2 separate regions of the Homo sapiens genome follow, and region 1 is linked to region 2. The links come from fine-mapping of genetic effects on plasma protein levels. A gene starts in region 2. The other region holds a variant in brackets. All regions are shown on one strand. Distances are from middle to middle. Region 1 overlaps RBP7 (retinol binding protein 7). Region 2 holds the start of RBP7 (retinol binding protein 7).

What was found. PIP is the chance, under the fine-mapping model, that this variant and not a neighbour inherited with it causes the effect. Protein levels are from antibody-based Olink assays in UK Biobank. Linkage for the fine-mapping came from a reference panel and not from the study's own genotypes, which makes the PIPs less certain.
Region 1: its variant is fine-mapped to the plasma level of the RBP7 protein (UK Biobank, PIP above 0.99). The variant lies in the coding sequence of RBP7. If it changes the protein, the assay may bind it differently, which can mimic a change of level.

What each region holds. Positions count from the first base shown.
Region 1 is chr1:10,003,695-10,020,167 of GRCh38, forward strand. RBP7 (retinol binding protein 7) reads left to right here. Exons shown (of 4, transcript NM_052960.3): 2 at 3,876-4,054; 3 at 4,479-4,580; 4 at 12,088-12,327. The coding sequence ends at 12,138. Among named protein-coding and RNA genes, the nearest start is that of RBP7, 15 kb to the left of the region's middle. RefSeq lists a silencer at 3,603-3,803. The variant G/A (reference allele first, on the strand shown) is at 4,560.
Region 2 is chr1:9,987,200-10,001,855 of GRCh38, forward strand. It overlaps RBP7 (retinol binding protein 7), which reads left to right and starts at 10,029. Exons shown (of 4, transcript NM_052960.3): 1 at 10,029-10,132. The coding sequence starts at 10,060. It overlaps LOC124903840 (basic salivary proline-rich protein 2-like), which reads right to left and starts at 10,890. Exons shown (of 2, transcript XM_047436754.1): 1 at 10,483-10,890; 2 at 9,520-9,653. The coding sequence starts at 10,831. The coding sequence ends at 9,520. It also overlaps a transcript of NMNAT1 not described here. RefSeq lists silencers at 4,072-4,366, 11,778-11,978.

The sequences.
Region 1 (16,473 bases), 17 kb after region 2:
GCCCTACATGAGTAGTGCAAATTGTAAATTTGCTAACAACAAATTGCCTCACATATTTTATTTTATTTATTTATTTTTTGAGATGGATTCTTGCTCTGTCACCTAGGCTGGAGTGCAGTAGCGAGATTTCAGCTTGCTGCAACCTCCACCTCCCGGGTTCAAGAGATTCTCCTGCCTAAGCCTCCCGAGTAGCTGGGATTACAGGCACCCCCCACCACGCCTGACTAATTCTTGTATTTTTAGTAGAGATGGGGTTTTGCCATGTTGGCCAGGCTGGTCTCGAACTCCTGACCTCAGGTGATCTGCCCTCCTCAGCCTCCCAAAGTGTTAGGATTACAGGTGTGAACTACCACGCCTGGCCTGCCTCACAATTTTTTTTTTTTTTTTTTTTTTTTTAGATGGAGTTTTGCTCTTGTTGCCCAGGCTGGAGTGCAATGGCGGGATCTCGGCTCACCGCAACTTCCGTCTCCCCGGTTCAAACAATTCTCCTGCTTCAGCCTCCTGAGTAGCTGGGATTGCAGGCATGCCCCACCACGCCCAGCTAATTTTGTATTTTTAGTAGAGACGGGGTTTCTCCATATTGGTCAGGCTGGTCTCCAACTCCCGACCTCAGGTGATCGCCCACCTCTGCCTCCCAAAGTGCTGGGATTAAGGCATGAGCCACTGCGCCCAGCCAGATTGATGGATTGATTGATTTTGAGATGGAGTTTCCCTCTTGTTGCCCAGGCTGGAGTGCAATGGTGCAATCTCAACTCACCTCAACCTCTGCCTCCCAGGTTCAAGCGACTCTCCTGCCTCAGCCTCTGGAGTAGCTGGGATTACAGGCATGCGCCACCATGCCCGGCTAATTTTGTATTTTTAGTAGAGACGGGGTTTCTCCATATTGGTCAGGCTGGTCGCGTTGGTCTGCCCGCCTCGGCCTCCCGAAGTGCTGGGATTACAGGCATGAGCAACCGTGCCCGGCGCCTCACAGATTTTAAAAGCGTAACTCTAAACTCATTGTTAGTCTAAAGTTATTGGGTTTTGATTTGCTTACATAATAGGGTTTAAGGAAAGTCAGCAGTAAGTTTGGCTTGGTCATATTAATAATAGGAAATGAGCCTGAGTAACATGGTGAAACTTCATCTCTACCAAAGAAAAATTCAAAAATTAGCCAGGTGTGGTGGCACATGCCTGTAGCCCCAGCTACTTGGGAGGCTGAGGTGGGAAGATCTCTCGAGCCTGGGAAGCAAAGGCTGCAGTGAGCCGAGATTGCACCACTGCAGTCCAGCCTGGGCAACAGAATGAGACCCTGTCTCAAAAAAATAATAATAATAGGAAGTGATTTTAAGGTTTTGGTCTCAATACTTAAATATTTAAATATTGTTGAAAACCAGTAAAGCCTGGATCATATTGCATCTCAAACTAAAAACTGGAGTTCTAGATTTAAACACACACACACAAGCTTTTTTATTTGCAGCTGAGACTACAGGCATGTACCACTATGCCCAGCTGTTTTTTTGAGATATTTGTTTGTTTGTTCATTTGTTTGTTTTTGAGATGGAGTTTTACTCCGTCCCCAGGCTACAGTGCAGTGGCTCGACCTCAGCTCACTGCAACCTCCGCCTCCTGGGTTCAACTGATTCTCCTGCCTCAGCCCGACCCAGGTGTGAGCCACCATGCCCAGCCTCAGCTGTTTTTATTTTTTTATAGAAATGGGGTCTTGCTATGTTGTCCAGGCTGGTCTTGAACTCCTGGGCTCAAGTGATCCTCCCACCTTGGCCTCCAGAAGTGTTGGGATTACAGGTATGAGCCACTGTGCCTGGCTACAAAAATTTTTTCTTAGGATGAGGACATTTATACTATTGTTTTATTTTTGGTTGTTGTTGTTTGGGTTTTTTTTTTTTTGAGACGGAGTCTTGCTCTGTTGCCCAGGCTGGAGTGCAGTCGCACGATCTCGGCTCACTGCAGCCTCCACCTCCTGGGTTCAAGCAATTCTCCTGCCACAGTCTCCCGAGTAGCTGGGATTACAGGGGTGCACCACCATGCCCAGCTAATTTTTGTTTTTCAGTAGAGATGGGGTTTTGCCATGTTGCCCAGGCTGGTTTTGAACTCCTGACCTCAGGTGATCCACCTGCCTCTGCCTCCCAAAGTGCTGGGATTACAGGCATGAGCCACCACGGCTGGCAGAATCACGTCTCATCTCTAACTCCTCTCCTTCCTCCTCCCTCTCCCCGATTCTGCGGCAGATACACTAGGCTCCTCAGAGTTCCCGAAACACACTGGCACACCCTTCCTCAGAGTCCCAGGGCTCCCTGGATTTCTGCCTTAAACTATTTTCCCAGAAATCTGTGTGGCTTGATTCTTTACTTCTTTCAGCTCCCCGCTGAGACGTCACCTGGCCATTATTTAAAATAGTGGTGTTTATTTCTAGCTACATAATATGCTCAAAGGCAGTAAGTGGAACTGGGATTCCAAACCCTGATCTTCATCTTCTTAGCATTCCATGTTTCCCTGTGGAACTCTTCTTTAAAGCTTATTTAAGAATTCTAGCCGAGCAGGGTGGCTCATGTCTGTAATCCCAGCACTTTGGGAGGCTGAGGTGAGAGGATTGCTTGAGCCCAAGAGTTCGAGACCAACCTGGGCAACATAGTGAGACTTGATCTCTACAAAAAAATATTTAAAACATTTCCAGGCATGGTGGCATGTGCCTGTAGTCCCAGCTATTCGAGAGGCTGAGATAGGAGAATCACTTGAGCCTGAAAGGTTGAGGCTACAGTGAGCCATGATTGCACCACTGCACTTCAGCCTGGGTGACAGAATGAGATCCTGTCTCAAAAAAAGAAAAAAATTATAAATACATAGTAGTATATAGCTGGGTGTGGTGATGCAAGCCTGTAATTCCAGTTACTCAGGAGACTGAGGCAAGAGAATTGCTTGAACCCGGGAGTGGAGGTTGCAGTGAGCTGAAATCGTGCCACTGCTCTCCCCAACCTGGGCGACAGAGTGAGACTGTGTCTCGGAAAAAAAAAAAGAAAAAAAAAAGTATATACGTGTGTGTGTGTGTGTGTGTGTGTGTATATATATATATAGAGAGAGAGAGAGAGAGAGGTATATACATGAATCCAGTGGTTTTTGAGTTTTGTTTTCATTCTTGTTGAGAAACTGTTCAAATGCTCTCTTAATTCAAAGTGTAAATACATAAGGCAGAAAAAGGCAGAGTTATGACTGAGGCTGGGTTGGGGGGCCTAAGCCCTGTCCCTTTGGTTTTCTTTTTCTTTCTTTTTTTTTGAGATGGAGTCTCGCTCTGTTGCTCAGGCTGGAGTGCAGTGGTGTGATCTTGGCTCACTGCAACCTCCGCCTCCTGGGTTCAAGCAATTCTCCTACTTCAGCCTCCAAAGTAGCTGGGATTACAGGTATGTGCCACCATGCCCGGCTAATTTTGTATTTTTAGTAGAGATGGGGTTTCTACATGTTGATCAGGCTGGTCTCAAACTCCTGACCTCAGGTGATCCGCCCTCCTCAGCCTCCCAAAAGTGCTGGGATTACAGGTGTGAGCCACTGCACCTGGCCTACAGTTTTTATTTTTTTATAGAGACAGGGTCTTGCTATGTTGCCCAGGCTGGTCTCAAACTCCTAAGCTCAAACAATCCTCCTGTCTTCTGTGTCCCAAAGTGCTGGAATTACTGCACCTGGCATTTGCAAACTTTTTAATCAGGCTGTGGTTGGCAGTTTGCCAAGACGATTCCTTGTAGATCTGATTTTGGCAGCAAACAACATAGAAGTCGTACAGGAAATGCTAACAATTACATGTGGTGATTTTGAGAACAGCTACCAAATTCTTCACTTTTGTATCTCAAGCGAATGTTCAAATATTTTTAAAAATTATTTTTAAGGTATTGACTTTGCCACTCGTAAAATAGCCAAGTTGCTGAAGCCACAGAAAGTGATTGAGCAGAATGGGGATTCTTTTACCATCCACACGAACAGCAGCCTAAGGAACTACTTTGTGAAATTTAAAGTTGGAGAAGAATTTGATGAAGATAACAGAGGCCTGGACAACAGAAAATGCAAGGTAAAATGTAAAGAAATGCCAGGTGCGGTGGATTACGCTTGTAATCCTAACACTTTGGGAGGCCAACGCAGGCGGACCACCTGAGGTCAGTAGTTTGAGACCAGCCTGGGCAACACGGCAAAACCCTGTCTCTACAGAAAAAAATTCAAAAAGTAGGGGGGCGTGCTGGCAGGAGCCTGTAATCCCAGCTACTTAGGAGGCTGAGGCAGGAGAATCACTTGAACCCGGGAGGTGGAGGTTGGTTGCAGTAAGCCAAGATCGTGCCACTGCACTCCAGCCTGGGTGACAGAGTGGGACTCCATCTCAAAAAAAAAAAAAAGCAGTAAGTAGGCTGTTGATTTTGCAAGGGTAACTTGGCATTCTACTTCGTAACACTTGAGGATCCTGCCAGGACAAGCTAACATTTTCTCCTCTCTTCATGCAGAGTTTGGTTATCTGGGACAATGACAGGCTCACCTGTATCCAGAAGGGAGAAAAGAAGAACAGAGGCTGGACCCATTGGATC[G/A]AAGGAGACAAACTCCACCTGGTATCCACCACATTTTGTTCTTAATGAGATGATACAGTATTAAAGGAAACATCAGGCCAAGCGTGGTGGCTCACACCTGTAATCCCAGCATTTTAGGAGGCCGAGGTGGGTGTATCACTTGAGGTCAGGAGACTAGCCTGGCCAACATGGTGAAACCCCATCTCTACTATTTTTTTTTTTTTTTTGAGATGGAGTATCGCTGTGTCACCAGGCTGGAGTGCAGTGGCGCGATCTCGGCTCACTGCAACCTCCACCTCCTGGGTCCAAGCGATTCTCCTGCCTCAGCCTCCCGAGTAGCTGGGACTACAGGCACGCACCACCACACCCAGCTAATTTTTGTATTTTTAGTGGAGACGGGGTTTCACCATGTTGGCCAGGATGGTCTCGATCTCTTGACCTCATGATCCACCCGCCTCGGCCTCCCAAAGTGCTGGGATTACAGGCATGAGCCACCACCACACCTGGCCCATCTCTACTGAAAATACAAAAATTAGCCGGGCATAGTGGCGCATGCCTATACTCACTCTCATCTTATATTAAATGAAACAGCCGAATATTCCGACAGAGGCAGGAAGATAACATGCAAATACTCATGGAACAATTCTTACCTATTATATGTAATAGCTACTTTATGTATACATAGATATGCATAGATAGATATAGTAGCTCACATCTTTGGAGTGATTATTTTGGGCCCAATTACTGTGCTCAATCCTTTGAGTGCATTATCTCATCTAATCTTCACAACCCTGTGAAAAGGACGCCATTTTTCCCATTCACAAATAAATTGGGATTTTGAAATTCCCCAAGGCTGCTGTCAGAAGCATCAGAATCCAGTTTAAAAGGGTTTATTCAGACTGGGCGAGGTGGCTCACGCCTGTAATCCCAGCACTTTGGGAGGCTGACGTGGGCGGATCACGAGGTCAGGAGATCAAGATCATCCTGGCCAACATGGTGAAACCCCGTCTCTACTAAAAATACAAAAATTAGCTGGGCATGGTGGCACATGTCTGTAATCCCAGCTACTTGGGAGGCTGAGGCAGGAGAATTGCTAGAACCAGTTAGTCGGAGGTTGCAGTGAGCCAAGATCGCACCACTGCCCTACGGCCTGGTGACAGAGGCCGTTTCAAAAAAAAATAAAACAAAATAAGGGTTTATTCAGGCATGAAGATGAGAATGGCCACCCAGGAAACACAGACTCCAAAGAAATGGGGTCAGTACACCCAAGCTGAAAAGTTAATGTCTTATTTTTTTTTTTTTTTTGAGATGGAGTCTCTCCCTCTGTCACCCAGTGTCACCCACGCTGGAGTGCAGTGGTGTGATCTCAGCTCACTGCAACCTCTGCCTCCTGGGTTCAAGCGATCCTCCCACCTCAGCCTCCCGAGTAGCTGGGACTACAGGCATGCACCACCACACCCAGCTAGTTTTTGTATTTTTAGCAGAAACGGGATTTTACCATATTGGCCAGGCTGGTCTCGAACTCCTGACCTCAAGTGATCAGCCCACCTGGGCCTCCCAAAGTGTTGGGATTACAGGCGTGGCCGCTTGTAATAAAAATTTAATTTCTTGGAATGTAATTCTTGGAGTTTTTCTTTTCCTTTCTTTTTCTTTTTCTTCTTTTACTTTTAAGCTGTTGGACTTGAGGTGTTTTTCTTTAATGGCTTTATTGAGGTATACTTTATGTACCAAAAAATGCACCTGTTTTAAGTGTACAGTTTGATAATTTCTAGTAAATGTATACAGGTGTACAACCATTCCCATTATCCAGTTTCAGACAAGTCAATCACTCCAAAACATTCCCTAGAGGCCATGTGCTGACAACTATTATTTTACAGCCTGTTTTGTTTTGTTTTGTTTTTGAGATGGAGTCTTGCTCTGTTGCCCAGGCTGGAGTGCAGTGGCATGATCTCAGCTCGCTGCAAACTCTGCCTTCTGGGTTCAAGCAATTCTCCTGTCTCAGCCTCCCAAGTAGCTGAGACTACAGGTGCATGCCACGACACCTGGGTAATTTTTGTATTTTGAGTAGAGACAGGGTTTCACCATATTGGCCAGGCTGGTCTCAAACCCCTGACCTCAGGTGATCCACCCGCCTCTGCCTCCCAAAGTTCTGGGATTACAGGCGTGAGCCACTGTGCCTGGCCTGTTTTTGTTTGTGTTTTTGAGACAGAGTCTCCCTCTGTCATCCAGGCTTGAGTGCAGTGGCGCAATCTCGGCCCCCTGCAACCTCCACCTCCTGGGTTCAAGGGATTCTCCTGCCTCAGCCTCCCAAGTAGCTGGGATTACAGGCACCCGCCACCATGCCCAGCTAATTTTTTTTTTTTTTTTTTGAGACGGAGTTTCGCTCTTGTTGCCCAGGCTAGAGTACAATGGTGCGATCTCGGCTCACCACAACCTCCACCTCCCGGGTTCAACGATTTTCCTGCCTCAGCCTTCCCAAGTAGCTGGAATTACAGGCATGCACCACCACGCCTGGCTAATTTTGTATTTTCAGTAGAGACGGGGTTTCTCCATGTTGGTCAGGCTGGGCTTGAACTCCCGACCTCAGGTGATCCGCCCACCTCGGCCTCCCAAAGTGCTGGGATTATAGGTGTAAGCCAGCATGCCCGGCCATGCCCAGCTAATTTTTGCATTTTTAGTAGAGACATGGTTTTGCCATGTTGGCCAGGCTGGTCTCGAATTCCTGACCTCAGGTGATCTGCCCGCCTTGGCCTCCCAAAGTGCTGGGATTACAAGCGTGAGCCACCCGACAGACAGAAAACAAAGAAATTTCGCAGGATTACAACATTTTCTATACAAAGCTGTTTTATGAGTTACAGGAATTTGATTAGTTACCACTCAGTTTTTTCCTTTTTCTTTCCAGTTTAAAGAATATATTTAACATTCTTTATTTTATTTTTCTTCCCCCTCATTCTTGCTGTCATCTTAAGAGTATATTTAACATTCCATCTTAGACAACGTGATAGTCATCTGTCTTTGTATTAGAGAAGGAAGAGGTTCACCTGCTTTGGGAAAAAAAAAGAGAGAAGAAACAGGGAAGTGAGTCTGTAATTAAGATCAACAGTAGAGGGAAGTCTTCTCTGGTGCCCTTTAGTTTTTTACAAAACAGTGTAGGTAAAGAAAAAGGCTAATCTATAACCAGAGAAATTAAGGTTATAGCTGTCTAGGTTACAGCGGCCTTTCACATGACTCAGGTCCCACAATCACATTCCTTTAAGACTCAAAATAATTTAAAGTTTCATCAGCTTTGATTGTGAATTACGTATTTTCACACTGTAGGGTGAAGATTCAAATACAGGTCTGACAAGAATGTGTGCTCTCAGCTCTGTGCTTTTTTGCCTCACTGTATGTGTGAAATCTAGGTGAGACCCATGAGAACAAAACTAGAGCACTGTCCTTAAAGTTGGGTCTGGGTAGTCTTTGAATACCAAGGCCTTGAAGATATTTTGATTCTAGATGGACAAATCTCACACTCTTCTGACGATAAAAAAGTAAGAGGTCAGGCATGGGATTACGGGTTCACGCCTGTAATCCCAGCACTTTGGGAAGCTGAGGCAGGCGGATCACCTGAGGTCAGGAGTTCGAGACCAGCCTGGCCAACATGATGAAACCCCATCTCTACTATAAATACAAAAATTAGCTGGGCGGAGCCGGGCGCAGTGGCTCATGCCTGTAATCCCAGCACTTTGGGAGGCCAAGGTGGGTGGATCACTTGAGGTCGGGAGTTTGAGACCAGCCTGACCAACATGGAGAAACTCCCGTCTCTACTAAAAAATATTTAAAAAAAAAATCAGCTGAGAGTGGTGGCGCATGCCTCTAATGCCAGCTACTCAGGAGGCTGAGGCAGGAGAATCACTTGAACCTGGGAGGAGGAGGTTACGGTGAGCCGAGATTGCACCATTGCACTCCAGCCTGGGCAACAAGAGTGAAACTCCATCTCAAAAAAAAAAAAAAAAAAAAAATTAGCCGGGCTGTGGCAGGCACCTGTAATCCCAGCTACTCAGGAGGCTGAGGCATGAGAATCGCTTGAACCCGGGAGGCAGAGGTTGCAGTGAGCCAAGATCATGCCACTGCACTCCAGCCTGGGGGATACAGCAAGACTCTGTCTCCAAAAAAAAAAACAAAGTAAGAAACTTGCCTTCGCAAATACGTAATATGGAATTTCAAAGAATATATACATATGTTTGAGGATTTAGATTAGTTGGTTTGTAAGAGGTAATGTTCAAATTATGCACAACAGCTGGGTGTGGTGGTACTTGCCTGTAGTTCCAGTTACTGGATAGGCCAAAGCGGGAAGATTGCTTGAGCCCAGGAGTTTGAGTCAAGCCTGGGGAACGTAGGACTAGCCTGTCTTTAAAAAAAAAAAAAAAGAAAAGGAAGGCTGGGCATGGTGGCTCACACCTGTAATCCCAGCACTTTTGAGAGGCCGAGGCAGGTGGATCACCTGAGGTCAGGAGTTCGAGACCAGCCTGGCCAGCATGGCGAAACCCCGTCTCTATTAAAAATACAAAAATTAGCCTGGTGTGGTGGCAGGCACTTGTAATCCCAGCTACTCGGGAGGCTGAGGCAGGAGAATCACTTGAACCTGGGAGGAGGAGGTTGCAGTGAGCCAAGAGCCAAGATCGCGCCACGGCACTCCAGCCTGGATGACAAGAGTGAAACTGTCTCAAAAAAAAAAAAAAAAAAAAGAGAAATACCAAATGTGTACATCCTTCTCTAGCATACCCTGGAAATCTGCCCATGCAGGGCACAGAAGTACTTTTGTTCTAAGGATACTCATGGAATGCTTCTTACTTACCATGATTTTTTTTTTTTTTTTCAGACAGAGTCTCACTCTGTCGCCCATCCTGGAGTGCAGTAGCTTGATCTCAGCTCACTGTAACCTCCTCCTCCTGGGTTCAAGTGATTCTCCTGCCTCAGCCTCCCAAGTAGCTGGGATTACAGGCGCCCGCTACCATGCCCAGCTAATTTTTATATTTTTAGTACAGACAGGGTTTCACCATGCTGGTCAGGCTGGTCTCAAATTCCTGACCTCAGGTGATCCACCCCCCTCAGCCTCCCAAAGTGCTGGGATTACAGGCATGAGCCACCGCGCCCAGCCACCATGATATATTAAAAAATATTTGGTTGCTGGGTGTGGTGGTTCACTTCCGTAATCCCAGCACTTTGGGAGGACACGGCAAGAGGATCACTGGAGTCCAGGAGTTTAATACCAGCCTGGGCAGCATAGTGTGACTCTGTCTCTACAAAAAATTGGCTGGGGGCAGTGGCTCATACCTGTAATCCCAGAATTTTGGAAGGTCGGGGCAGGTGGATCATCTGACGTTAGGAGTTGGAAACTAGCCTGGCTAACATGGTGAAATGCTGTCTCTACTAAAAAATACAAAAATTAGCCGGGTGTGGTGGCGGGCACCTGTAGTCCCAGCTACTCAGGAGGCTGAGGCAGGATAATCACTTGAACCCAGGAGGTGGAGGTTGCAGTGAGCCGAGATCGCGCCATTGCACTCCAGCCCGGGCAACAAGAGCAAGACTCCGTCGCAAAAAATTAAAAAAAATTAGCTGGGCATGGTGATGGGTGCCTGTAGTCCCAGCTACTTGGGTGGCTGAGGTGGGAGGATTACTTAGGCCCAGGAAGTTGAGGCTAAGGTGAGCCATGACTGCACCACTGCATTCCAGCCTGGGCGAAGGAGTAAGACCCTGTCTCCAAATAAAAAAGGAGTAAGGCCTTGTCTCCAAATAAAAAAAAAGATCTTTTGTGTGTTAACGACATGACTGTCTACTGAGGGTCCTTAGATAGCTTCAGGATGGGGGATGGTCACCAGAAAATCGAAGGCATGATTAGAGGGTTGGAACTTTCAGCCTCATCCCTGAGGGAAGAGGGGCTGGAGATTGAACTAATCACAAATAGCCATTGACTTAATCAGTCATGCCTATGTGCTGAAACATCCACTAAAAACTAAACCACGGGGTTTAGAGAGCTTCCATGTTGAACGGTGAACATTCATGTGTGTGGTGAATACATTGAGGTGCTGGGAGGGCTGTGTGCTCCCCCTTCCTACTTTGCCCTATGCGTCTCTTCCATCAGGCTGTTTCTTTTCTTTTCTTTTCTTTCTTTTTTCTTTTTTTTTTTTTGAGATGGAGTCTTGCTCTGTTGCCCAGGCTGGAGTGCAGTGGCGCAATCTTGGCTCACTGCAACCTCCGCCTCTTGGGTTCAAGCAATTCTCCTGTCTCAAGTGTCCTGAGTAGGTGGGATTACAGGCATGCACCACCACACCCGGCTAATTTTTGTATTTTTAGTACAGACAGGGTTTTGCCATGTTGGCCAGGCTGATCTAGAACTCCTGATCTCAGGCGATCTGCCCGCCTCGGCCACTCAAAGTGCTGGGATTACAGGCATGTGCGCCCGGCCCCATCAGGCTGTTTCTGAGTTGTTTATTTTATAATAAACTGGTAATAGTAAGTAAAGGGACTTTCTGAGTTTTGTGAGCCCTTCTAGCAAATTATCAAGCCCGAGGAGGGGTTGTGGGAAAACCTGATTTGTAGCTGGTCAGTCAGAAATATGGGAGGTCCCAAATTTGCGACAGGTGTCTGAAGCTGGGGGGAGTCTCGTGAGACTGCATCCTTAACCTATGCAGTCTGTGCTAACTCTGGGTAGTTAGTGCCCAAATTAAATTGGCTTACTGGACACTTGGTTGGTGTCAGAGAGTTGGAGAAGTGGGACTGGAAAAGACATCACACAACTGGTGTCAGGCGTTTAAAAACCCACACCTTTGGTGTCAGAAGTGTTGAGAGTAGGCCAGGTGTGGTGGCTTATAACTATAATCCTAGCACTTTCGGAGGGCAAGGCAGGAAAATCATTTGAGGCTAGGAGTTCAAGACCAGCCTAGGGGTCAGGCGCAGTAGCTCATGCTTGTAATCCCAGCACTTTGGGAGGCTGAGGCGGGCAGATCATGAGGTCAGGAGTTCAAGAACAGCCTGGCCAACATGGTGAAACCCCGTCGCTACTAAAAATACAAAAATTAGCAGAGCATGGTGGCACACACCTGTAATCCTAGCTACTCAGGAGGCCGAGGCAGAAGAATTGCTTGAAGGCAATTCCGCTTAAAGGCAGAGGTTGCAGTGAGCCAAGATTGCACCACTGCACTCCAGCCTGGGCTACAGAGTGAGACTCCATCTCAAAAAAAAAAAAAAAAAGACCAGCCTAGGCAGTGGCAACCCTGTCCCTACAAAAAACACAAAAATTAGCCGGGCATGATGGCACGTGCCTGCAGTGTCCCAGCTACTTTGGGGGCTGAGGTGGGAGGATCGCTTGAGCCTGGGAGGCAGAGGTTACAGTGAGCCGAGATCTCACCACTGTACTTAGCCAGGACGACAGAGTGAGACCCCATCTCATAAAAGAAAAAAACATGTTCCAGAAAAGGGTTAAAACACAATAAAAAATAAGTGTTGAGAGTAAAAACAGACCACATGCAAACTGATCCTTCTTTTTCCCTTCCTCCTTACGCCCTAGGAAATGTTCTGTGAAGGTCAAGTGTGCAAACAGACATTCCAGAGAGCCTGATCCACATCCAGCAGCAGAGCCCACTTGTGGCTGCAGCTTTATGCCAAATTATATTGCAGACTGAACAGACGTTTATCTATCCCATTTGGCGACGAGGACTCGTGGCTGGAGAGAGCCACACAGCGTGTAACCTGAAGTCATCTAGATTATGGGGAAACTGCTCAGCTTCAATAAACCTGTCCAAATGACTCTGAAGTTTTTCCTTTCCGATTTAGGAAATCCCAGCATTTAAAAAAATATTTGAAAGTCTTCTAGGCACATGAGAGACACACCAGTGAACAAGCTGTCAGTCCTGCCTTCAAGGCTAGTGAGGAAGCTGGCCAAAACAAGCAACCTGAACAGCCACCAGAGCTCTGGGGGTGGGGGGCAGATGACTTTGAGGGATGGGCAGATGGTGATATTGACAGGGGTCTGGGATGGTGATTTTGTTTCTTTTCTTTTCTTTTCTTTTCTTTTTTTTTGAGACAGAGTCCTGCTCTGTCACCCAGGCTAGAGTGCAGTGGCTCCATCTCGGCTCACTGAAACCTCTGGCTCCTGGCTTCAAGCAATTCTCCTGCCTCATCTTCCCAAGTAGCTGGGATTATAGGCATGTGCCACCACACTCAGCTAATTTTTGTATTTTTAGTAGAGATGGGGTTTCACCATGTTGGCCAGGCTGGTCTCGAACTCCTGACCTCAGGTGATCCACCCACCTTGGCCTCCCAAAGTGTTGGGATTACAGGCATAAGCCACCGTGCCTGGCCAGCAGTTCCTCTTTTTTTTTTTTTTTAAACAACATTTAGAATCTCCCCAAGGGTAGCTTAGAGAAAAGAAAATCCAAGACAGGAAATCAGAAGCTATCTATGGGGGGAAAAATAACCTTAATAATGGCAAAGTTACACAAATAACAAACCAGAAAGGAATCATTCCAGAAGCCAAGAATTCAACCCAGATCACCCTTGTCAAAGGACAAAGCCTTAGCTACTGAGCTACACAGCATTGGGCAGTTTCCTTCTTTTTTTTTTCTTTTTTTTGACGGAGTCTCACTCTGTTGCCAGGCTGGAGTGCAGTGGCACAGACTCGGATCACTGCAACCTCTGCCTCCTGGGTTCAAGTGATTCTCCTGCCTCAGCCTCCTGAGTAGCTGGGACTACAGGTGTGTGACACCACGCCCAGCTAATTTTTGTATTTTTAGTAGAGATGGGTTTCACCAGGTTGGCCAGGATGGTCTCGATCTCTTGACCTTGTGATCCACCCACCTTGGCCTCCCAAAGTGCTGGGATTACAGGGATGAGCCACCGCACCCAGCCCTGGGCAGTTTCTATTGCTATTCCCAGAAGAAGTCTAGCCAAATTCAAGATTTCAAAGGCTCTTAACTGCTCAAGATAATTTTTTTTTTTTGAGACAGAGTCTTGCTGTGTTGCCCAGGCTGGAGTGCAGTGGCGTGATCTTGGCTCACTGCAAGCTCCGCCTCCCGGGTTCACGCCATTCTCCTGCCTCAGCCTCCCGAGTAGCTGGGACTACAGGCACCCACCACCACGCCTGGCCAATTTTTTTGTATTTTTAGTAGAGATAGGGTTTCACCATATTAGCCAGGATGGTCTTGATCTGCTGACCTCATGACCCACCCGCCTCGGCCTTCCAAAGTGCTGGGATTACAGGTGTGAGCCACCGCGACCGGCCTGCTCAAGATAATTTTTAGGGCTAACTATGACATGAACCCCAAAATTCCTGTCCTCTAGATGGCAGAAACCAAGATAAAGTATCCCCACATGGCCACAAGGTTAAGCTCTTATGGACACAAAACAAGGCAGAGAAATGTCATTTGGCATTGGTTTCAGGGACCCATAGCAACATTTGTAAATGACCAGCCTGATGGGCTGGCTTGAAAACTTGGCTTATAGGCATCCTAAACCCACGTTCTATCCCCTGATACTCCCCTCTTCATTACAGAACAACAAAGAAAGACAAATTCTTAGCATAAAGTACACCAGATTTGCTACAGCCTAAGACTGGTCTGACAAATCCTTTTTTTCTACTAATCAGACCCTCGCAGAGAAGACAAATAGTGGCATTTACCGTTTACACAACATATACAGAGAGAGAGAGACCAGAAACTTGGCTGGTAAGAATTTCTTCCTCTGGCCAGGAGCGGTGGCTCACACCTGTAATCTCAGCCCTTTGGGAGGCTGAGGCGGGTGGATCAGAAGGTCAAGAGATCCAGACCATCCTGGCCAACATGGTGAAACCCCGTCTCTACTAAAAATACAAAAATTAGCTGGACATGGTGGTGGGCGCCTGTAGTCCCAGCTACTCAGGAGGCTGAGGCAGGAGAATTGCTTGAACCCAGGAGGTGGAGGTTGCAGTGAGCCTAGATCACGCCACTGCACTCCAGCCTGGCGACACAGCGAGACTCCGTCTCAAAAAAAAAAATAATAAATAAGAAAAGGAAAAAAAAGAATACAACTCAGGAACAGCCAAATGGAGGAGATGCATGGGACAAGGTTTAGTGGGGGGCTGCGGAGCTTCCTTGCCCTCTGCAGGTGCACCACCCTTGCAGTGCGTGGATATGTTTGAGGCAGGAGACCAGGGTCTGGAGGCAGGGAACCTAAGGCTGTTTTGGGCTGACTTCCTAGAACTAAATTGAAAAGAAAATCCTAACTTTCCAAGCCTAAGTAACAAAAGGACCAGAGGCTACCCCTTTGCAAACCCCTACCTTTTCTGTGGCAGATGGGAAATTGTAAGTACCTCTAATTAATTAATTAATTGCCTTTTTTTTTTTTTGAGACAGAGTCTCTCTCTGTTGCCCAGGCTGGAGTGCAGTGGCACCATCTCGGCTTGCTGCAACCTCCACCTCCTGCGTTCAGGTGATTCCCCCACACTTACTGGGCTGCATTCCCAGAAGGTTAAGGCATTCTTAGTCACAGGATGAGATAGGAGGACAGCACAAGACACAGGTCACAAAGACCTTGCTAATAAAACAGGTTGTGGTAAAGAAGCCAGGAAAACCCACCAAAACCAAGATGGTGATGAGAGTGGCCTCTGGTCTTCCTCACTGCTCATCATACACTAATTATAATGCATTAGCATTAGCACCCACCACGCCCAGCTAATTTTTGTATTTTTAGTAGAGACGGGGTTTTACCATGTTGGCCAGGATGGTCTCCATCTCTTGACCTCATCATCCGCCCACCTCTGCTTTCCGCAACCAATCGGACTGATTACAGGCCACTACTTCACCTCATTTACATGGGTGAACACCCAGTGGCCAATGGGAAACCTCTAGTGGGTATTTGGACTGGAGAAAATTCTGTATCCAGGGCCCTTGAGTGGCTGCTGGGGCCCGCTCCCACCTGGTGAAATGTACTTTCATTTTCAATAACTCTCTGCTTTTGTTGTTTCATTTTTTTCTTGGTTGTGTGTTTTCTTAAACTCTTTTTTTTTTTTTTTTTTTTTGATGGAGTCTTGCTCTGTCACCCAGGCTGGAGTACAGTGGCGTGATCTCGGCTCACTGCAACCTCTGCCTCCCAGGTTCATGCCATTCTCCTGCCTCAGCCTCCCGAGTAGCTGGGACTACAGGCACCCGCCACCACGCCCGGCTAATTTTTTGTATTTTTAGTAGAGACAGTGTTTCACTATGTTAGCCAGGATGGTCTCAATCTCCTGACCTCGTGATCTGCCCGCCTCGGCCTCCCAAAGTGCTGGGATTACAGGCGTGAGCCACCGCACCTGGCCCTTGTTAAATTCTTTGTTCAAAATGCCAAAAACCTGGACACCCTCCACTGGTACTGAAGCTCACTGAACCTCCTTGTTCAGGAGTTTTCATAGAGCTCCATCTCCAGCCCCCTTCCCTCCCAGGAGGTTGGGGTGGGGCTGTTTCCACCCTCTAATCAAAGTCCTCTAATTTGGTCTTTCTGGTGAGCAGCCCCAACCCTGAGTCACATCATTAGCATAGACTCTGGTGTGTTCTAAAGGGGCTCCTTATGAATAGCAAAAGACAATCCTATCACTCAGGAAATTCCAAGGAATTTAGGAGCCCTGTGCCAGAACCAGGGAAAAAGACCAAATATATATTTCATTAAACTTTACTACATGATACAAACTACAGTTTGGAAAGACATTTAGGAATGGTAGAACAAAACAAGTGAGAAAATATAATATGTAAAAGGTCTTTTTGTCATTTCAAAATACAAGAGGTAGCTGGGCATGGTGGCTCACACCTGTAATCCTAGCATTTTGGGAGGCTGAGGCAGGAGGATCCCTTGAGCCCAGGAGTTGGAGACCAGCCTGAACAACATACTGAGACCCCGTCTCTACAAAAAATAGAAAATTAGTTGGGTGTGGTGGTCCATGCCT
Region 2 (14,656 bases):
AACAAACAAAAACAAAACAAGTGTACTAAGTCCAGTGCGGTGGCTCACACCTGTAATCCCAGCACTTTGGAGGCCAAGACAGGAGGAGCACTTGAGCCCAGCATGAGCAACAGAGTGAGACCCTGTGTCTACAAAAATTTTTTTAAAAATTAGCCAGGCAGCAGGGCGCAGTGGCTCACGCCTGTAATTCCAGCACTTTGGGAGGCCGAGGAGGGCAGATCACAAGGTCAGGAGATCAAGACCATCCTGGCTAACACAGTGGAACCCCGTCTCACTAAAAATACAAAAAATTATCCGGGCGTAGGTGGCGGGTGCCTATAGTCCCAGCTACTTGGGAGGCTGAGGTAGGAGAATGGCGTGAACCCAGGAGGCAGAGCTTTCAGTGAGCCGAGATTGTGCCACTGCACTACAGCCTGGGTGACAGAGCAAGACTCCGTCTCAAAATAAATAAATAAATAAATTAAATTAAATTAAATTAAATTAGCCAGGCATGGTAGCTTGTGCATGTAGTCTGAGCTACTTGGGAGGCTGAGGTGAGAAGATTGCTTGAGCCTGGGATCTGGAGGCGTAGTGAGCTGTGATTACCCCACTGCACTCCAGCCTGTGTAGCTGAGACCCTGTTTCAAAAAAAATGAAATAGTGCAGCTAAAAGTATCAATGTCACCAAAGCAGAAGACCCAAGTCTCCAGCCACACTTTTGTTGAGACAATAGTATTCATAAAGTGATTTTCAAAATTTTTATTTACTTACTTATTTCCCACTTCATAAGCTGGTCTAGCATGAAGTATGGTTTTTTTAGTTGTTGTTGTTTTTTTTGAGACAGAGTCTTGTTCTGTCACCCAGGCTGGATTGCAGTGGCACGATCTCAGCTCACTGCAACCTCCACCTCTCAGGTTCAAGAAATTCTCCTGCCTCAGCTTCCCGAGTAGCTGGGATTATAAGCGCACACCACCGTGCCCAGCTAACTTTTGTATTTTTAATAGAGACAGGGTTTCTCCATGTTGGCCCGGCTGATCTCAAACTGACCTCAAATGATCCACCTGCCTTGGCCTCCCAAAGTGTGGGGATTACAGGTGTGAGCTATCACACCCAACCAAAGTAGTATTTTATTTAACATTTATATCTTCAGCAACTTAAGCATGTTCGAAACTGAACCATAATTTTGCTCTCAAATGGATAAATAATCATAAGAAAGCTGCTTAAGAAGAAAGGGTACCTTGGCTGGGTGTGATGAATCATGCCTGTAATCCCAGCACTTTGGGAGGCCAAGGCATTTGGATCACCTAAGGTCAGGAGTTCGACACCAGCCTGGCCAACATGGTGAAACCCCGTCTCTAATAAAAGTACAAAAATATTAGCCAGGCATGGTGGCAGGCACTTGTGGTCCTAGCTACTCAGGAATCTGAGGCAGGAGAATTGCTTGAACCTGGGGAGGCAGAGGTTACAGTGAGCCAAGATCGCGCCACTGCACTCCAGCCTGGGTGACAGAGCGAGACTCCATCTCAAAAAAAAAAAAAAAAAAAAGGGTACCTTGATTTTTTTTTTTTTGAGATGGTCGCAGGTTCAAGTGATTCTCGTGCCTCAGCCTTCTGAGTAGCTGGGATCACAGGCGTGTGCCACCACACCCAGCTAATTTTTGTATTCTTAGTAGAGATGGGGTTTTGTCATGCTGGTCTCTAACTCCTGGCCTCAAGTGATTCTCCCACTTCTGCCCCTCCAAGTGCTGGAATTACAAACATGAGCCTCTGTGCCCAGCCAAAAGTACCTTGATTTTATTTATGATATTGCTAAGGAAAGGAGGCAGAGAAATTCTGGGCAGAAGAGGGTGGGTCCCCAATGAGGGCTCCCCACCTGGAGCTGAAAAGCCTGATACTATGGCCCAAAGTGAGCATTTACATCCCTGTTTGCCCTCTTGAAAGTTGCCTTTTCCATAACTACCCATGGCCCACCCCCCATCCTGTGCCCATGAAAACCCCAGGCTCAGCTGGGCACAGTAGCCTGTAACCCTAGCACTTTTGGAGGCCAGGGCGGGCAGATCACTTGAGGTCAGGAGTTCAAGACCAGCCTGGCCAACATGGCGAAACCCCACCTGTACTAAAAATACAAAAATTAGCCAGGCATGGTGGCGGGCGCCTGTAATCCCAGCTACTCAGGAGGCTGAGGCACGAGAATCACTTCAACCCAGGAGGCGGAGGTTGCACTGAGCCAAGATCGCGCCACTACACTCCAGCCTAGGTGATAGAGCAAAACTCAGTCTAAAAAAAAAAACCAAGCTCAGCCAGCAGAGAGTGGAGAAGCAGCTGGATATTGGAGACTACGGTTGGACGGCAGAAATAAGTGGCTTGACTTCAGAGGGACAGCTTCATGGTGTAGCTTTGAAGAGGAGTCCAGCCAGGGACGGCTGGACTTCAGGGGAAGATTACCTTCTTGCTCCATCCTCCTTTCAGCTCCTCTTCCCACTGAGAGTCACTTTCATTGGCAATAAATTTCCATGCATTTACCATCTTCAATTCATTTGTGCTACCTCATTCCTCCTGGACACTGGACAAGAACTTGGGTACCACAAGTGCGGGTACAAAAGCCTGTCACACTGACCCTCCACTGAGCTGTTAACACTTAAGCTGTCCACAGCAAAGCTAAAAGGGCATTGTAACACCCCTTCTGGGGCTTCAGGGGTTGCAGGCACCCTCACCAGATGCTGCTGCGGGGCCCACACAAAGTTTTGCTCCTTCAGGTGCCCAAAAGCACTTGCCCCAGCTCCTGCACCCGCTCACCTGCATGCTCCGCCTCCCATAAGGGGTGGAACACAGCAGGTCCAAGTGAGTGGAATGGCCCCTGCCAGCGCCAAAGTGGCTGGCTAGTTCCAGCGCCCCTGCATTCCAGTTCCTGCCAATGAAGGGGTCAGGGAAATACCCTGCTTCAAAATGTATCAGAATTTTTTTTCATTGCAAGTAGCAGGAAGCTCAACTCAAAGTGATCTAAACACGGACATCTATACTCAGAAGTACAGACATAGGGCAGAATGGAAGGTGTGTAGGTTTGTAGGTGCTGTGAGTCAACACTGTCATCGGGGACCCGGGTTCTTTCCATCCCTCTACACTTCCAGTCACAGTGTCTTAAATCTAGTGCCCTTGAGTTATAGGAGGGTCACCAGTAGCCAGGCTTCCTAGTTCATGTTCAGGAGTGACTCCTCATGGCTCCCCATGGCTCTGTTAAAATCAAAGAAACATCTTTTCCAACAGCCCTTTCAAACTCCTCATCGCATCTCACTGGCTGATTCAGTCATTTAAACCTGCTTCTCCCTAAAGCTGATCACTGGCTAAGCTAATAGGGTTTCCGGGATTGGTTTAGCCTGATACTAATCCAGGTCTACCTTCAGGAGCCAGACCAAACTGCCTATTGGCATTGCATTCTTGCAGTAGGGAGGGGAGGTATGGATGGTGTGGAGTCCACCACAAGGTCCATGCCAGTCTTTGCTGAACCAGCATCAGACTCCATCAAGCAACAGATGAGAGGTTCCATGATAAAGTGGCCCTCAGCAATCCCCATCCATTGCTGTCTAGGAAGAACAGTGCTTGTACACAGGTTTAGGACCTCAGTCTTGGCTGTAATCTTCTGGTTTACTTTGCCAGCACCAAACAGAAGGAAAGAAAGGGCTCAAATTTGACCAAATAAATTATGCTTCTCCTTCCAGAGATAACCTTGAGTCCTGTCTAGGAAGATATTAGAATTGTAAAGAAAAAAAAAATTACTCCTTATCCTATGGCAAGTGGAGTCTATGTCTACTTCAGCTGAAATTAAATCCTGTCCATAATAGATGACCCTTGCTCAAGCTGGCCAGAAGCCATACCAACCAGCACGAAGGTTAAAACTATTATTAGTTTTTTCTGTGATTTTCATTTTCAGGCCAAGTTTTAGAACAATAAGATTTTAAGAATAGGAAGTAAGTAAGATTTCTGCATATCCTGTTCTCTTAGTCAGCTGAATTTTTTTTTTTTTTTTTTTAGACAAAGTCTTGCCTCTTCACCCAGGCTGGAGTGCAATGGTGCAATCTCAGCTCACTGCAACTTCTGCCTCCCGGGTTCAAGCAATTCTCTTGCCTCAGCCTCCCCAGTAGCTGGGATTACAAGCCTGGCTAATTTTTGTTTTTAGTAGAGATGGGATTTCACCCTGTTGGCCAGGCTGGTCTTGAACTCTTGACCTCAAGTGACCTTCCTAACTCAGCCTCCCAAAGTGCTGGGATTACAGGCGTGAGCCACCGCACCAAGCCTGGAATCTATGTCTTACAGTTATGAGAATCAACAGCTAGCTCATTATGGGCAAGGTGATGTCACTCTGGCTTCTCAATGAAAATGGCATTTCTCCCTTGGAAAAGGTCATAGCCAGTCAGTCAGTCAGTCAACAAACATTTATTGAGTACTTACCAGGCACTGTGCTAGACCCTGGAGATACAGGAGTGGTGAATGAAATCAACATGGGCTCTGCCCTGGAAAGCTTCATGGAAAAGGCAGTCAATAAAAAAGAAAAAAGATAATTATGGATTATAATAATGATAAAGGACGTAAGCAGAGATGTGATGTGGAGTAAGTGTGTATTAGGAGCATATAGGAAGGCTGTTCTGAGAAGATGGCTCTCAAGTTCTTGAAGATATCCAAGTACTTTTCTGTCCACATTCTAAACCAACTGAAAAATAAGACGAAAAAAAAAAGCAACAAAAGGGCTGAGCACAGTGCCTCACGCCTGTAATCCCAGCTACTCTAGAGGCTGAGGCAGGAGAATTTCTTAAACCTGGGAGGCAGAGGTTGAGCCACCCCACTCCAGCCTGGGTGACAAAGCGAGACTCTGTCTCTAAATAAATAAGTAAGTAAATAAATACTTTAGGTTTAGATTTTTTTTTTTTTTTGAGACGGTCTCAGTCTGTCATTCAGGCTGGAGTGCAATGGTTCCATCACGGCTGACTGCAGCCTCGACCTCCCAGGTTCAAGCGATCGTCCCACCTCAGTCTCCCGAGTAGCTGGGACTACAGGTGCATACCACCACACCCAGCTAGTTTTTTTATTTTTTATAGAGACAGGACATTGCCATCTTGCCCAGGCTGATCTCAAAATCCTGGGCTCAAATGATCCTCCCTCCTCGGCCCCAAAATGCTGGGATTACAGGCATGTGCCACCACGCCCAGCCTAGGATTATAATTTTTTTATAGATTACCTCTACCTAGTTGACGAAAACGGTTCAGTGGCTGTTGCCCCGAGAGCAAGCATTCATCCCAGTTTACCAGGGGCTTTTCCAATGTTAGCAGCAAGAGTTCCATGTCCCAGGCACTCCTTCAGTCCTAGTTGTTCCAATCCTAAGAGGATGAGCAGAGGCCAGGGGCGTTTAGGGACAATTCCTCTCCATGGAGACCATGACTAGAAAAGACTGTACCCCTATGGCCGGGCGTGGTGGCTCACGCCTGTAATCCCAGCACTTTGGGAGGCCGAGGTGGGTGGATCACAAGGTCAGGAGATCGAGACCTTCCTGGCTAACACAGTGAAACCCCATCTCTACTAAAAAATACAAAAAATTAGCTGGGTGTGGTGGCGGGTGCCTGTAGTCCCAGCTACTCAGGAGGCTGAGGCAGGAGAATGGTGTGAACCCAGGAGGCGGAGCTTGCAGTGAGTGGAGATCGCACCAATGCACTCCAGCCTGGGCAACAAAGCGAGACTTGGTCTCAAAAAAGAAGAAAAAGAAAAGAAAAGACTGTACCCCTAATAGTGACTTTTGAGCTGGAAGCCAAAGGAGCTAACCAGGCAAAAACTAGGAGGAAAAACATCTCAGAAAGAGGAGACACCAAATACCAAGACTCTGAAGGAAAGGGTGTGATGTGATTAGAGGAACTGAGTTGGGGGAGACAGGATGTACTGCTGGTGGAGGAGTAGCCAGGAGCCAAACCAGGAAGGACTTTGTGAACCTAACCATGAGAGAGAGTGCAAATTTCCTTTTAAGAAAAACAGGACAGGCCAGGAGCGGTGGCTCGCACCTGTAATTCCAGCACTTCAGGAGGCCTAGGTGGGTGGATCACCTGAGGTCAGGAGTTCGAGATCAGCCTGACCGATACGGTGAAACCTCATCACTACTAAAAATATAAAAATTGGCCGGGTGTAGTGGCATGCGCTTGTAGTCCCAGCTACTCGGGAGGCTGAGACAGAATTGCTTGAATTCAGGAGGTGGAGGTTGCAGTGAGCCAAGACTGTGCCACTGCACTCCAGCCTGGGCAACAGAACAACACCCCATCTCAAAAAAAAAAAGAAAAGAAAAAAGAAAGACAGGACAATACTGAAGGGCTGTAAGCAAGGAGTGAGAAGATCTGAATTACATTCCTTAAAAGCTTGCCGGGGCTGCGTATGGAGAATTGTTTTGAGGGACTCAGAAGGGAAGCAGCAGGTCCAGATGAAAGATTTTTATAAGTGGTCCTGGCAAGAGATGATGGGGACTTGGGTTAAGATGGTAGAACCAAGAGGACTTGCTGAGGGACTGGATTTTGGCCAGCAGAGAAGATGGAAATTCACAAATCTACTGGATTCTTAGCTTGAGCATCCAGGGGCCTAATGGAATGTATGGAGATAAGGAGAGCTGGAAAAAATTTTGTTCTTACACTTTCTAGCTTAGCTGCGTCAAGTTTCAGATGCCTTTAAGATAGCCAAGTGGAGACGTCAAGTAGGAGGCGAGAGGTGGCACTGAACGTGCAGGCAGGTTACCTGGGTTTGAATCCAGACTCTGCCAACTATATGACCTCGGGCAAGTTAGTTAACCTCTCTATGCCTCAGTTTTTAGCTCTGTCAAAGGGAGTTAATAAAATAACTATTGGAGAAGTAGGATTTTGCAACAAATAATAATACACATAGCACTCAACAAATGTTAGCTTTTTTTTTTTTTTTTTTTTTTTTTTTTTGCAACAGAATCACTCCGTCTCCCAGGCTGGAGTGCAATGGTACAATCTCTGCTCACTGCAACCTCTGCCTCCCGGGTTCAAGTGATTCTCCTGCCTCAGCCTCTCCAGGAGCTGAGACTACAGACGTGTGCCACCACACCTGACTAACTTTTGTATTTTTTTAGTAGAGACGGGGTTTCACCATGTTAGCCAGGCTTGTCTCAAACTCCTGACCTCAGGCAATCCACCCATCTCAGCCTCCCAAAGTGCTGGGATTACGAACGTGAGCCACTGTCCCCAGCCAAATGTTAGCTTTTATTTTTTATTTTATTATTTTTGAGACAGAGTTTGGCTCGTGTTGCCCAGGCTGGAGTGCAATGGCACGGTCTTGGCTCACTGCAACCTCTGCCTCCTGGGTTCAAGCGATTCTCCTGCCTCAGCCTCCCACGTAGCTGGGATTACAGGTGCCCGCCACCATGCCTGGCTAATTTTTTGTATTTTTTGTATTTTTTTTTTTTTTTGAGACGGAGTCTTGCTCTGTCCCCCAGGCTGGAGTGCAATGGCGCGATCTCGGCTCACTGCAAGCTCCGCCTCCTGGGTTCACGCATTCTCCTGCCTCAGCCTCCCGAGTAGCTGGGACTACAGGTGCCCGCCACCACGCCCGGCTAATTTTTTTGTATTTTTAGTAGAGACAGGGTTTCACCATGTTAGCCAGGAAGGTCTTGATCTCCTGACCTCGTGATCTGCCCGCCTCAGCCTCCCAAAGTGCTGGGATTACAGGCTTGAGCCACTGCGCCTGTCCAATTTTTTGTATTTTTAGTAGAGATGGGGTTTCACCATGTTGACCAGGCTGGTCTCAAACTCCTGACCTCAGGTGATCCACCCACCTCGGTCTCCCAAAGTGCTGGGATTACAGGTGTGAGCTACCATGCACGGACTGCTAGCTTTTATTATATTTGAGTCTGGAACTCATGGGAGAGGTCATAAATTGACATATAAATCTTGAGCTGGACACAGTGGCTTACACCTGTAATCCCAGCACTTTGGGAGGCCAAGGTTGGAGGGTTGCTTGAGCCTAGGAGTTTGAGACCAACCGCCGGCAACACAGGGATACTCCATCTCTATAAAAAATTAAAAAAATTAGTCAGGCATGGTGGCACATGCCTGTAGTTGTAGCTACTTAGAAGGCTGAGGCAGGAAGATCACTTGAACTCAGGAGGTTGAGGCTACAGTGAACCATGATCATACCACTGCACTCCAGCCTAGGCAACAGAGCAAGACTCTATCTCAAAAAATAGTCAGTCTGGGTGTGGTGGCTCATGCCTGTAATTCCAGCACTTTGGGAAGCTTAGGTGGGTGGATCTTTTAAGGTTGGGAGTTCGAGACCTACCTGGCCAACATGGTGAAACTCCACCTCTTCTAAAATATATAAAAATTAGCCAGGCATGGTGGCAGGTACCTGTAATCCCAGCTACTCAGGAGGCTGAGGCAGGAGAGTTGCTTGAACCCAAGAGGCGGAGGTTGCAGTGAGCCAAGATTGCACCATTGCACTCCAGCCTAGGCGACAGAGTGAGAGTCTGTCTCAAAAAATAAAATAGAATAAAATAAAATAAAAAGAATAAATGAAAAAATAAATACCGCGGGTGCGGTGGCTCACACCTATAATCCCAGCACTTTGGGAGGCTGAGGCAGGCGAATCACGAGGTCAGGAGCTCAAGACCAGCCTAGCCAACATGATGAAACCCCCATCTCCACTAAAAATACAAAAAATTAGTTGGGCATGGTGATGGGCACCTGTGATCCCAGCTACTCGGGAGGCTGAGGCAGGAGAATCACTTGAACCTGGGAGGCGGAGGTTGCAGTGAGCCGAGATGGAACCACTGCCCTCCAGCCCGGGGCGATAGAGTGAGACTCCCTCTCTGCCGGGCGCAGTGGCTCAGGCCTGTAATCCCAGCACTTTGGGAGGCCAAGGCGGGCGGATCACAAGGTCATGAGATCGAGACCATCCTGGCTAACACGGTGAAACCCCGTCTCTAATAAAAATATAAAAAGTTAGCCGGGCGTGTTGGCGGGCGCCTGTAGTCCCAGCTACTCGGGAGGCTGAGGCAGGAGAATGGCGTGAACCCCGGAGGCGGAGCTTGCAGTGAGCCGAGATCTCTCCACTGCACTCCAGCCTGGGCACAGAGCGAGACTCCGTCTCAAAAAAAAAAAAAAAAAGAAAAAAGAAAGAGTGAGACTCTGTCTCAAAAGAAAAAAAATAAAAATAAAATCAATAAGTCAGTCTTGGAGCCAGCATATCTAGGCGGTGTTTGTGGCTAATGTTGTAGGTTAGCCCATATTCCCACCCCTTCTCCTTTGCTTTTCTCTGCTCTGAGGCTAAATGCTGCAGACTAGAATCCCCAGGCCCCCTTGCAGTTAGAAGTGGCATTGATACAGTTTTGGCTAATGAAATGTACACAGAAACCTGCTGGGTAATTTCTTTTCTTTTTTCCAACTATCCAGACTTATAGGAGATGGGGAGGTTTGTGCTGCAGGGATACTGACCTTTGGTGCTTTCCCTCTTCCCTACCTTGAATGTGGATGTCCTGGCTGGGAACCCAGCTGCCAGCTCATGACCAGGAGGTAACAAGCAGGAATAAAAGGCCACCAGAGTCACAGAGACGAAGCTGCGGCGTTACCGAGGTGCGAATCACTGTGATTCCTAGGTGCGAATCATCACCAGCAATCACTTCTCTCAGGACTCCTTGTTAAGAAAAATAAACTCCTATTTATTGAGACCATGAGAGTTACGTTGAGAGGTATATTGTTATTGAAGCTGACAATATTCAATGCCATGAGTTTGAAGATCATCCCTGGGTCATTAACATATAAGCAGGGAAGAAAATGTGGCCCGAAACAGTCTGGGACATGAGAAAGCAGTAGGAGAGGAAGCCCCAAGGAAAGGGGGAAGCTGCCGCGCGGTGGGCAGAGCCAGGAGCACCGGGCTGAGGCGGCCGGGAGCGCAGCGGCTTCTAGGGGTGAGTGGGACCCACGCGGCCCCACCTGCTCCTCCCGCGCGCGGCCCCACCCCCCTGCCCCGCCCCGCCTGGTTTATAGGTCCCGGCCCGAGCCTCCGGCCGCCCGCCGGGTTTGTCCCGCGATCCCCGACCATGCCCGCCGACCTCAGCGGTACTTGGACCCTGCTCAGCAGCGACAACTTCGAGGGCTACATGCTGGCCCTAGGTAAGGCGGAGGGGAGGCGGCGGCGGCGCGAGGCTCGCCGTGGGTCTCGGGATCAGGCGAAGGCGGCCGGGCCGGGCCTGTAGGTACGTCCTCTGTCCGTGCCTCCGCCCTGCTGCGCCCACCGTCGCCCAGTCGCCCCCGAGTCCGCTGGTCCTTGGCGCCTCCGTCCATCGGGCGCGGGACCCCAGTCCTTCAGTCCCCCAGTCCGTCCTTTCCCGCGCCCACCCGCCCCCCTGTCCCCACGGCCGTCTCTCCACGCCCTCTGTTCCCCCGGCCGTCGGTCCCCCACCCGTCCGTCCCTGAGTGCCCGCGTCCAGCCCCACGTCCGTCTCTACCCGCACGCGGCACACCTGCGGAGACTGCAGACTCGGGGTCCGGCCGGGGAGGGGGGTCCGGCCGGGGAGGGGGCGCCCGGGACCGAAGCCTCTGCCCGGCCACCCTCCCCGCAGCCGCCTTCCGTGCAGGCCCCGGGGCCCCGGGCGCGCTCCCGCAGCGAAGTCCCAGCAGCCTCGGCGCACCCGGAGCGGGTCGGGGATGCAGAATCCTGGAGCCAGCGGACGACCCTTCAGGTCCGGGCACCCGCGGGAGTGCAGAGCCTGGTTCGGCCCGGGGCGTGCCCCGACCGCCGCCTCCCACGAGGGCTGGGTGCCCGCGGCGTTCTTGCTCCCGGGGGCCCCGCGCTGTGCTTCCCGCCCTCATCGCGGTGCCAACGGTGCGCGGACTCTCAACTCACTGCAACCTCCGCCTCCTCGGTTCAAGCGATTCTCCTGCCACAGCCTTCCAAGTAGCTGGGATTACACGCGTGCGCCAGCCACCACGTCCGGCTAATTTTGTACTTTTAGTAGAGAAGGGGTTTCACTATATTGGTCAGGCTGGTGTCCAACTCCTGACCTCAGGTGATCCACCCGCCTTGGCCTCCCAAAGTGCTGGGATTACAGGTGTGAGCCACGCGCCCTGCCACGAGTGTAGTTTTTCTTGTAGCTTTAGGAATCTGGGAAGTTGCCGTGCCGGCCAATCCCTGAACCCTTGACCCGTGGGCAATTTTTGTTTTCTTTTTTTCTTTCTTTCTTTCTTTCTTTTTTTTTTTTTTTTTTGAGACGGAGTCTCGCTCTGTTGCCCAGGCTGGAGTGCAGTAGTACGATCTCGGCTCACTGCAAGCTCCGCCTACCGGGTTCACGCCATTTTCCTGCCTCAGCCTCTCCGAGTAGCTGGGACTATAGGCGCCCGCCACCACGCCCAGCTAATTTTTGTATTTTTTAGTAGAAACGGGGTTTCACCATGTTGGCCAGGCTGGTCTCGAACATCTGCCCTCGTGATCTGCCCACCTTGGCCTCCCAAAGTGCTGGGATTACAGGCGTGAGGCACCGCACCGGCCAATTTTTGTTTTCTTAACCTTAGGGCCCATCTTAGTTGATAAAGGGGCATTTATTTTGCTCTTTCATATCCCAAGAGATAAGAGTGTTCCTCTGGGTATGGGAAAAGCACCTCTCACTTGAGAGTCTTATGATCTTCTTCAGAGGAAGAGCAGAGAATTCTTTTATGGCCTGCTTCAGGGAAGAGGGGCAAAAGAAGGTCTGAGGGGGACCTTCCTGCTACTGTTATTTCCTCAAATGCCAAGTGATATGGTTTGGCTGTGTCCCCACCCAAATCTCATGGGAGTTGTAGTTCCCATAATTCTCATGTGTTGTGGGAGGGACCTGAGGAGAGGTAATTGAATCATGGGGTAGTTTTCCCCACACTGTTCTGGTGGTAGTGAATGTCTCATGAGATTTGATGGTTTTACAAGGGGTTTCCCCTTTCATTTGGCTCTCATTCTCTCTTGCCTGCCACCATGTAAGACGTGCCTTTTGCCTTCTGCCATGATTTTGAGGCTTCCCCAGCCACGTGGAACTGCGGCAGTTAAACCTCTTTTTCTTTATAAGTTACCCACTCTTGCCAGGCTCGGTGGCTCACGCCTGTAATCCCAGCACTTTGGGAGGCTGAGGCGGGTGGATCAACTGAGGTCAGGAGTTCAAGACCAGCCTGGCCAACATGGTGAAACCCCGTCTCAACTAAAAATACCAAAAAGAAATTAGCTGGGCATGGTGGCGGGCGCCTGTAATCCCAGCTACTTTGGGAGGCTGAGGCAGGAGAATCACTTGAACCTAGGAGGCAGAGGTTGCAGTGAGCTGAGATGGTGCCATTGCACTCCAGCCTGGGCAACAAGAGTGAAACTCTGTCTAAAATAATAATAATAATAAGTTACCCACTCTTGGATATGTCTTTATCAGCAGCGTGAAAATGGACATAAGGTGCCATGTTCTGAGGTCGCCTATCCAGAAACCCTTAAATCCAGAACGGTTTTCTGAAAACCAGCAACTGTGTTTCAACTTCAGATCTAATTTGTTAAAGTACTAAGTACTTACATCAATTTGTTAAAGTGCTAAGTACTTAGGTCACACTTATAGCACTAGAGTGGTTGTTTACATAATACTGTAATACTCTTTTTTTTTTTTTTTTTTTTTTAGATGGAGTCTGGCTCTATTGCCTAGGCTGGAGTGCAGTGGCGCGATCTCGGTGTGAGCCACTGTGCCCAGCCATAATACTATAATACATTTTATCTTAAGAATTAAGTTGGTCTGGGTGCAGTGGCTCACACCTGTAATCCCAGCACTTTGGGATGCTGAGGCAGGTGGATCATGAGGTCAGGAGTTCAAGACCAGCCTGGCCAACATGGTGAAGCCCCACCTCTACTAAAAATACAAAAAATTAGCTGGGCATGATGGCATGCACCTGTAATCCCGCTACTTGTGAGGCTGAAGCAGGAGAATTGCTTGAACCCAGAAGGTGGAGGTTGCAGTGAGCCGAGATTGCGCCATTGCACTCTAGCCAGGGAGACAAAGCAAGACTCCATCTTGAAAAAAAATAATTAAGCTAGCAGACTGGGCAGGTGGCTCACGCCTATAATCCCAGCACTTTGGGAGGCCGAGGTGGGTGGATCACCTGAAGTCAGGAGTTTGAGACCAGCCTGGCCAACATGGTGAAATACCCCATCTCTACTAAAAGTACAAAAATTAGCTAGGCATGGTGGCTCATGCCTGTAGTCCCAGCTAATTGGGAGGCTGAGGCACGAGAATCGCTTGAACCTGAGAGGTGGAGGTTGCAGTGAGCCCAGATCACGACACTGCACTCTAGCCTGGGCAACAGCATGAGACTTGGTCTCAAAAAAAATAAGTCAATAAGACAAAAAAAAAAATTCAGCTAGCAATCTTGAATTTTACTGATTTACTTGAATATATAATTAACTTTAAATTTATATGCTTGTTCATGTACATGTAAGGAAAATACATTCCATAAAAAATCACAGATATAGTACTTAGATCTTTAAACTGTAGGGTCTAGGAAAATAATAAATGATCGCCTCTTTTTTTGTTGTTGTTGTTGAGATGGAGTCTCTCTCTGTTGCCCAGGCTAGAGTGCAGTGGTGCGATCTCGGCTCACTGCAACCTCTGCCTCCTGAGTTCAAGCAATTCTCCTGCTTCAGCCTCCTGAGTAGCTGGTATTACAGGTGCCCACCACCTCTCCTGGCTAATTTTTGTATTTTTAATAGAGACGGAGTTTTACCATCTTGGCCAGGCTGGTCTTGAACTCCTGACCTCGTGATCCACCCGCCTTGGCCTCCCAAAGTGCTGGGATTACAGGCGTGAGCTACCGTGCCTGGCTGATTGCCTCTTTTTTAGTAGTAGAAGTGAGGTAAATGCCTGTTGGCAGTGATGCTAAGGGTCAAATAAGTCACCAGCAAATACACAGCACACATCTCATGATGTGCTCCAGCTGGCATCTCATTTGAGGGCAGAAAATCACTCCCTTTTGTCTAAAAACTAGTGTTCAGGAACTGATCCTGCAGCTCCCACCCGGGCTCTGGCATCACTCTCTCCCAGCATTTGCCAAACCGCAGTGAGAAGAAAGGCAGCTTGTCTTTGCACAAAGAAGCAAGTTTACTTGGGTTTTTTGAGATAGGGTCTTGCTCTGTCGCTCAGGCTGTAGTGCAGTGGTGCGATCATGGCTCACTGCAGCCTTCACTTCCTGGGCTCAGGCGATCCTCCCACCTCAGCCTTCCAAGTAGCTGGGACAACAGGTGCATACCACCACACTTGGCCAATTTTTCAATTTTTTTGTAGAGACGGTGTCTTGCTGTGTTGTCCAGGCTGGTCTCAAACTCCTGGCCACATGCAATCCTCCTGCCTCTGCCTTGCTTGGGTTTTAATATTTGGAGCTAACCTGGGATTTGGGAGTTCCTGGTGTACCCCCACAGCAGCCAAGGACACTGAAGGTGCGTGCTTCAGAAATGGAGAAGCCCCATGTTAATGCCCACAGATATTGACTAACTTGTGCAAGTCCTCGCCTTTAGTCCTGTTATGAACCCAAGAAGGTGGTGGTGTTACTAACTTGTCCCAGATTACTGTGTACACTGGGATATATTTATTTAATTTAATTAGTTTATTTATTTATTTATTTATTTATTTATTTATTTTTGAGACAGAG